Regions from separate parts of the Homo sapiens genome. Here regions 2 and 3 are each linked to region 1. Evidence: fine-mapped expression QTL. A gene starts in region 1. Each other region holds a variant in brackets. All regions are shown on one strand. Distances are from middle to middle.

Region 1 (2,760 bases):
GGGCTCAAGCCTTCCTCCTGCCCAGGCCTCCCGAGTAGCTGGACCTACAGGCATGAGCCACTGTGCTCAGCCACTCAGGACCTTTTTGTTGTTGTTGTTGTTGTTTGAGATGGAGTCTCGCTGCCACCCAGGCTGGAGTCCAATGTGTGATCTCCGCTCACTGTAATCTGTGCCTCCCGGGTTCAAGCGATTCTCCTGCCTCAGCCTCCAGAGTAGCTGGGATTACAGGTGCCCATCACCATGCCTGGCTAATTTTTGTATTTTTAGTAGAGATGAGGGTTCACCATGTTGGCCAGGCTGGTCTTGAACCCCTGACCTCAGGTGATCCGCCCACCTTGGCCTCCCAAAGTGTTGGGATTACAGGCGTGAGCCACCGTGCCCAGCCATTCAGGGCCATTTGATGAAGAAATTGGCTGTGGACCATAGATTTTTTTAAAAAGTCCTTCTACCATGTTAGAAATATTGGTTGGGGGTGGTGGCGGGGGGGTGTAGGCATTCAATTAAGCAATAAGCCAGTGATCTTTGGGGAGGACCATATATTCCTGTAAAACTCGCGGCTGAGCTGTACCCAACACAGGGTTAACGAAGTGCATCAGAGCTTTGTAGTAATTCCACTCTATCCGTGGAAGAGCCAGGGGATTTGTGTTTCCGTGTCTGTCTTGCATGGGAGCATAGTGGAAGCAACAGAAAATCTGGGGGCAAAAGCACCTGGCTTTGATCTCAGCCCAGGACCAGGTCCAGGACCACGGCCAGGCTTGTGACTGACTGGACTTCAGTAGGAACCACACTGGGGGTTAACAGATGACACAAAAGCAGGTGTTCGTTCTGTGCGGGAGACGCGCTAGGGGAGAAGAAAAGGCACACACACAGTACCTTTAAGGGTAAGCAAGCTTTATCCCACGTAAATGGCAATGCAGATATTATAATAAGCAAATTAATATAATAAGCAGATTGATATAATAAGCAAATTGCAATGGGAAGAGGAGAAGGAAAAAGACATATATATATATATATTTACACTCACCAGACTATGGAGGATTCACCTCCAGACTGGGAAGCAACGACCTGGGCTCCAGAGCCGGCCACTCGTCAGTGCACAGACGAGGAGAGGTCTCATGAAGCTTTTTGGCGTGGTCTGGGACCCTAGATCTTTTTGTAACATGTTGTCTAGCATGAGGCCCAGTCACGAGGGCCCTTTGCGACTGGGCTCAAGGAACACAAAAAGGTCAACTTGTTTTTGCGATTGTTGTTTTTCAATAACTGACGTATAGGAGTAGACTGAAATAGAGATTTCTCCGAAACAGCGCTGGATGAACGCCTCAAGGGGCTCCCACAACCTGTTTAGGGACTTGGTGACCATTGTTTGTGTCCATGTCAGTTGAAATTTAAATATTTAGTTCTTCCTCCTCAGTGTTCAAGTCAACTTTTATGGGCATCTTATTTTACACAAATGTTAACACAGACAACAGCCACGACTCTGGTCCACGGAAACGTTCTATCGCCGCCCAGCCTTTACGCAAACGTACACAGCTCGAAAAGCTAGGCCGACCGTCCCCGGCAGCGCCACGCCCGCTAACCCCGCCCCCGCCACTGGCTCCTTTCGGTGCGGCCTTGCTATTGGCTCCTTTCTGTGAGCCGTCGGTTGCCGTGGAGACCGAGGCGATGGCAACCAGGAGAAGCCAAACTTGGTCCCCCGGCTCGCGGAGTGCCTGCGAGCGGTGCTCATGGCGCTCTATGAGCTCTTCTCTCACCCGGTCGAGCGCAGTTACCGCGCGGGGCTCTGCTCCAAAGCCGCGCTGTTCCTGCTGCTGGCCGCTGCGCTCACGTACATCCCGCCGCTGCTGGTGGCCTTCCGGAGCCACGGTGAGCCTGCCCCGGCCGCTGTGCCACGAGGCTCCCCGGGCGCGCTCGGCCAGGGCCGGCCTCCCTAACCGCCTCCCTACCGCCCTCTTTAACTCAGGGTTTTGGCTGAAGCGGAGCAGCTACGAGGAGCAGCCGACCGTGCGCTTCCAACACCAGGTGCTGCTCGTGGCCCTGCTCGGACCCGAAAGCGACGGGTTCCTCGCCTGGAGCACGTTCCCCGCCTTCAACCGGCTGCAAGGGGATCGCCTGCGCGTCCCGCTCGTTTCGGTGCGTGGTTCCCGCCTGGGCCTGGGGCAGAGTCGGGGATAGGGTGGGGATGGGGACTGGAATGAGGATGTGGGGCGAGCGGCCCCGGCCCTGGGGAGCCCAGCTTTGATCCTAAGGACTCGCGAACCCGCAAAGGTGGCGTTTCATCTCCTAGGACCTAGGGAATCGATCTTCTGTTTCATTCTGCTTCTCCCAGATGTCCCCGGCCCCCAGAAAGTTAGCCATGCTGTCAGCGTGTGCGCCCTGACACAGAGTCCAGAAGTGTGGGGGCAGCCTGTGTCTGCCCGGGTCACACCCGCGGGCCTGGCCTGATGGAGGGTGTTTGTGAAAGTCCATTTAGGAGCCTGGAAGGCCGCGCGCTGTTAATGTAGATAACCCCATTCTGTCGCGGCGTTTCTGCATCACACCACTATAGGAACGGAAAGGGCAGCATTTTTATGCAGACCTGACCCCTGGAAACCAAGGCGCTGATTGGTTAAGCGGCCTTCCCAGAACGCGCTGTGGCCGAGTCACGCCTCCCTGGGTTTGTCCCATTGGAGACTGCGCCATCCTGAAGCTGTCGGGATGAAATGGAAGCATGTTACTGTCTGTAATTTATTTATTTATTTTTAAATTTTTTCACCAGTAGAG
Region 2 (2,760 bases), 25 kb after region 1:
GCTCGGGAGTCAGCAGGTGACAGAGGTGTTGGGCATCCTCCGCTCACTCCTGTCCCCGCATTGAGGCGAAGGAGCAGAGGTGAGATCTGCTCACAAGTTAGACCCTGGCTTCTCTCAGTGGGCAGTGTGGACAGGGGAAGGGGGCAGGCAAGGAGCAAAGGATGCAGGAGCAAGGAGAAAACTTCCAGGCTCCTCCCTTCCAAAGTCACCCAGCCTTGAGATCATTGCAGATGCAACAGGTGCAAACAGAAGAACACTTTAGGACCTTGGAATGCGGGAGGCTGGCTCAGTGTTCCTTCCACCCTGTGAGAAATGCGTGACATTCTTAAGGTCCACTAAAGGCTCAGGGTGGTTGGACGCCAGAGGATGGCCTGGGAGATACAGGGATTGGAAGGGTAGGTGGCCTGTGGGTGTCTCCTCTGTGGGGAGACTCACCAGGTGGAGGGGGTTCTTTCTCTCCAGATGTAGCTCAGCACAGGGACAGTAACAGTAACAGGGGCATGTGTGTAAGGAATGCTTCCCCAGGCCCTCCCCTCATAGGTGTTTGCAGCAGCATCCATCACAACAGCTCTAAGAGGTTAAATATTGCAAATCCCATTCTACAGAGGTGCAAATTGAGCCTCAGAGAAGTTAAGTCACTTGCCCCAGGTCTCATAGCTCCCCATTGGCAGTGCTGGGATTTGGAGCCAGCTCTCTCGCTTCCATCCATCAGGAGACCCCGCCAGTTCCCAGCCATTTGGAGAAATGCCCTACTCAGACTTATTCAACCTCAGCAAGCCTGGTGGTGGTGTGACATCCGCCTAAACCGTCATCAAGCCCTTTAGCTCCACAACCCAAAAGGGTCTCTCTACGAGTTATCCTGAAGCAAAAGGCAGGCAGGACAGCTCTGTTCCCACCCTGGGGAGCTTTCTATGTACAGGGCTGTCTCTCTGTAGGGCTCTGATCTCCTCTCCTTCCTGCTTTGCCAGATGTCGAGACATCTCCCATGGATTTGTGATCAGCGTTGCAGCTCTCCCAGCAGCCCTGGACGGTGGTGAGTCCCCTCAGCTGGCCAGGACAGTACTCTGCTCTCACCTCTCTGCTTCTTGGGCTCCATCCCAGCTCCCCATCAACTGATCTTCTTGCAAACCCACAGGGCTCCAGGACACCCTCCTTCTGGAGCCCATGCTGCCTACAGCACTTCACTCCCCACCAGTGATGACAACAGTTGCTGTTCTTTGTCCACTTTATTTACTTGTTTATCTTTAATGACAAAAGTTTTTTT[T/G]TTGTTGTTTTTTTTTTTTTTTTTGAAACGGAGTCTCACTCTTCACTCAGGCTGCAGTGCAGTGGCGCAATCTCAGCTCACTGCCACCTCTGCCTCCCAGGTTCACGCCATTCTCCTGCCTCAGCCTCCCGAGTAGCTGGGACTACAGGCGCCCACCATCACGCCTGGCTAATTTTTTGTATTTTTAGTAGAGATGGGGTCTCACTGTGTTAGCCAGGATGGTCTCGATCTCCTGACCTCGTGATCCGCCCGCCTCGGCCTCCCATAATGCTGGGATTACAGGCGTGAGCCACCGCGCCTGGCTGACAAAAGTTTTATACCTGCCTGTTAAAAAAATTATATAATACAGAAGCACACCTTGTAAAAGGTGCAATCCTCAGTTATGGGCATGACTGCGTGTTCCCTTCCCCCATCTTCATTATAATAACCCCCCAATCCCCCCAGATCCTGTGAGCCAGGTACCGGAATTATCCCTCTTTCACACACGGGTAAAGTGATCCGTCACAGAGAGATTTAAGTGATCTTCATAAGCAAGATCATAGGCTAGGAAGTGGCAGAGCCAGGATTCAACCTCGGCGAGCCTGGTGGTGCTCTGACATCCACCGAAGCCCCCATCAAGCCCTTTTAGCTCCACAACCTAAAAGGGTCTCTCTAAGAGGTATCCTGAAGCAAAAGACAGGAGTTCTCTTTGAAACATAGTATTTCTCTCTACAGATAGATAGCCTGTAGGTATGTAAGTAGGTGGGTGGGTGGGTAGGTAGACAGTTTGATGATATCCCACATTATTCTGCAACTGGACTTCTGCTGTGAGCACAGACTATATTCTGGCCTATGTCTTGACTCCGTATTCCTGGGAAAGTGCTCGACTGAGACCTTGGGAGTCTTGGGAAGTCCAATGGGTAGGGTAGCCGAATCTGAGGGCTGATCCCTGAGGGCACTGGGCAGTAATTGGGGCATGGGATGGGCATGAGGGCCCGGGTCCCTAAAGTTGCCCACTCCACCCGAAGGCCCCCAGCCGCCCGCATGTGGCTGCCACGGTTCTCCAGCAAGACAGTGACAGTGCTCCTCCTGGCACAGACCACCTGCCTCCTGCTCTTCATCATCTCCCGGCCAGGGCCCTCATCCCCAGCCGGCGGCGAGGATCGTGTGCACGTGCTGGTGCTGTCCTCGTGGCGCTCGGGCTCATCCTTCTTGGGCCAGCTCTTCAGCCAGCACCCCGACGTCTTCTACCTGATGGAGCCCGCGTGGCATGTGTGGACCACCCTGTCGCAGGGCAGCGCGGCAACGCTGCACATGGCCGTGCGCGACCTGATGCGCTCTATCTTTTTGTGCGACATGGACGTGTTTGATGCCTACATGCCACAGAGCCGAAACCTGTCCGCCTTTTTCAACTGGGCAACGAGCCGCGCGCTGTGCTCGCCGCCCGCCTGCAGCGCCTTTCCCCGAGGCACCATCAGCAAGCAGGACGTATGCAAGACACTGTGCACGCGGCAGCC
Region 3 (2,760 bases), 160 kb before region 1:
GATGGGTCTTGACTCTTTATCCAATTTGCCAGTGTGTGTCTTTTAATTGGAGCATTTAGCCCATTTACATTTAAGGTTAATATTGTTATGTGTGAATTTGATCCTGTCATTATGATGTTAGCTGGTTATTTTGCCCCTTAGTTCATGCAGTTTCTTCCTAGCCTCGATGGTCTTAACAATTGAGCATGTTTTTGCAGTGGCTGGTACCAGTTTTTCCTTTCCATGTTAAGTGCTTCCTTCAGGAGCTCTTTTAGGGCAGGCCTGGTGGTGACAAAATCTCTCAGCATTTGCTTGTCTGTAGAGGATTTTATTTCTCCTTCACTTATGAAGCTTAGTTTGGCTGGATATGAAATTCTGGTTGAAAATTCTTTTCTTTAAGAATATTGAATATTGGCCCCCACTCTCTTCTGGCTTGTAGAGTTTCTGCTGAGAGATCCGCTGTTAGTCTGATAGGCTTCCCTTTGTGGGTAACCCGACCTTTCTCTCTGGCTGCCCTTCCCATTTTTTCCTTCATTTCAACTTTGGTGAATCTGACAATTATGTGTCTTGGAGTTGCTCTTCTTGAGGAGTATCTTTGTGGTGTTCTCTGTATTTCCTGAATGTGAATGTTGGCCTGCCTTGCTAGATTGGGGAAGTTCTCCTGGATAATATCCTGCAGAGTGTTTTCCAACTTGGTTCCATTCTCTCTGTGACTTTCAGGTCCACCAATCAGACGTAGATTTGGTCTTTTCACATAGTCCCATATTTCTTGGAGGCTTTGTTTGTTTCTTTTTATTCTTTTTTCTCTAAACTTCTCTTCTTGCTTCATTGCATTCCTTTGATCTTCCATCACTGATGCCCTTTCTTCCAGTTGATCGAATCGGCTACTGAGGCTTGTGCATTCGTCATGTAGTTCTCGTGCCGTGGTTTTCAGCTCCATCAGGTCCTTTAACGACTTCCCTGCTTTGGTTATTCTACTTAGCCATTCATCTAATTTTTTTTCAAGGTTTTTAACTTCTTTGCCATGGGTTCAAACTTCCTCCTTTAGCTCGGAGTAGTTTGAT[C/T]GTCTGAAGCCTTCTTCTCTCAACTCGTCAAAGTCATTCTCCATCCAGCTTTGTTCAATTGCTGGTGAGGAGCTGCGTTCCTTTGGAGGAGGAGAGGCACTCTGATTTTTAGAGTTTCCGGTTTTTCTGTTCTGTTTTTTCCCCATCTTTGTGGTTTTGTCTACCTTTGGTCTTTGATGATGGTGACATACAGATGGGGTTTTAGTGTGGATGTCCTTTCTGTTTGTTAGTTTTCCTTCTAACAGTCAGGACCCTCAGCTACAGGTCTGTTGGAGTTTGCCGGAGGTCCACTCCAGACCCTGTTTGACTGGGTATCAGCAGCAGAGGCTGCAGAACAGCAGATATTGGTGAGCAGCAAATGTTGCTGCCTGATCGTTCCTCTAGAAGTTTTGTCTCGGAGGAGTACCCGGCCGTGTGAGGTGTCAGTCTGCCCCTACTGGGGGGTGTCTCCCAGTTAGGCTACTCAGGGGTCAGGGACCCACTTGAGGAGGCAGTCTGTCCGTTCTCAGATCTCCAGCTGCGTGCTGGGAGAACCGCTACTCTCTTCAAAGCTGTCAGACAGGGACATTTAAGTCTGAAGATGATTCTGCTGCCTTTTATTTGGCTGTTCCCTGCCCCCGGAGGTGGAGTCTAGAGAGGCAGGCAGGCCTCCTTGAGCTGCAGTGGGCTCCACCCAGTTTGAGCTTCCTGGCAGCTTTTTTTACCTAAGCAAGCCTGGGTAATGACAGGCGCCCCTCCTCCAGGCTCGCTGCCACCCTGCAGTTTGATCTCACACTGCTGTGCTAGCAGTGAGCGAGGCTCCATGGGCGTAGGACCCTCTGAGCCAGGCGCAGCATATAATCTCCTGGTGTGCCGTTTGCTAAGACCATTGGAAAAGCGCAGTATTAGGGTGGGAGTGACCTGATTTTCCTGGTGCCGTCTGTCACCCCTTTCTTTCACTAGGAAAGGGAATTCCCTGACCCCTTGCACTTCCCAAGTGAGGCGATGCCTCACCCTGCTTCGGCTCATGCTCGGTGCCCTGCACCCACTCTCCTGTACCCACTTCCCAACACTCCCCAGTGAGATGAACCCAGTACCTCAGTTGGAAATGGAGAAATCACCTGTCTTCTGTGTTGCTCACGCTGGGAGCTGTAGACTGTAGCTGTTCCTATTTGGCCATCTTGGCTCAAAAGAAATATTTAATTGAAATATAGCATGCATGCCAAAAATAGCAAATATTTATACATGTTTAATTTAACTAATGTTCACAAATCAACTACACTCGTGGAACTCAGCACTCAGATAAAGAAAACTTAGTGGCACCCAGAGGCCTCTGTTCGCTCACTTTCAGGCTCCCGATTCCATTCCCTCAGTAGCCCATGTCCTGCCTTCCAATCAGTATAGATCAGTTTTTCCTGTTTTACCTTACGGTGATGAAATAATAAAATATTCTTCTGCAATTAGTTCTAATTTTAAATATAAATTCTCAAATCCAGATAGTAAATATGTTAGGCTGTGTCGACCCTAGACACATTGGAGCCTCAACTACTAAGCCTGCTGTTGTGGCTTGAAAACAGCCATAGGCAATGCATAAGTGAATGAATGTGATGGTGTTTCGATAAAACTCTATTTACAAAAACAGGCAACTGGGTGGATCTGGCCCATAGGCCTAGAGTTAGCCAATTCCTGCTTTCATTTGTAATTTTATTATTGTGAGTAGCTATGAGGTCACACGTGG

Which allele goes with the higher level. Alleles are on the strand shown, and positions count from the first base shown. SD is a standard deviation of normalised expression in the study named. Not every link is listed here.
With allele G in place of T in region 2, the expression in iPS cells of the gene that starts at base 1,682 in region 1 is lower (large effect, 0.88 SD a copy in PhLiPS).

The links. PIP is the estimated chance that this variant, and not a neighbour inherited with it, causes the effect.
Region 2: its variant is fine-mapped to the expression of TMEM231 in iPS cells (PhLiPS, PIP 0.95).
Region 3: its variant is fine-mapped to the expression of TMEM231 in whole blood (TOPMed, PIP above 0.99).

What each region holds. Positions count from the first base shown.
Region 1 is chr16:75,555,174-75,557,933 of GRCh38, reverse strand. TMEM231 (transmembrane protein 231) reads left to right here and starts at 1,682. Exons shown (of 7, transcript NM_001077418.3): 1 at 1,682-1,863; 2 at 1,961-2,130. The coding sequence starts at 1,725. RefSeq lists enhancers at 1,252-1,361, 1,392-1,471 and silencers at 1,512-1,621, 1,912-1,991.
Region 2 is chr16:75,529,849-75,532,608 of GRCh38, reverse strand. CHST5 (carbohydrate sulfotransferase 5) reads left to right here. Exons shown (of 4, transcript NM_024533.5): 4 at 969-2,760. The coding sequence starts at 2,225. Among named protein-coding and RNA genes, the nearest start is that of CHST5, 4.9 kb to the left of the region's middle. The variant T/G (reference allele first, on the strand shown) is at 1,265.
Region 3 is chr16:75,718,575-75,721,334 of GRCh38, reverse strand. All of the region lies in intron 1 of CPHXL (cytoplasmic polyadenylated homeobox like), which reads left to right. Among named protein-coding and RNA genes, the nearest start is that of CPHXL, 6.5 kb to the left of the region's middle. The variant C/T (reference allele first, on the strand shown) is at 1,044.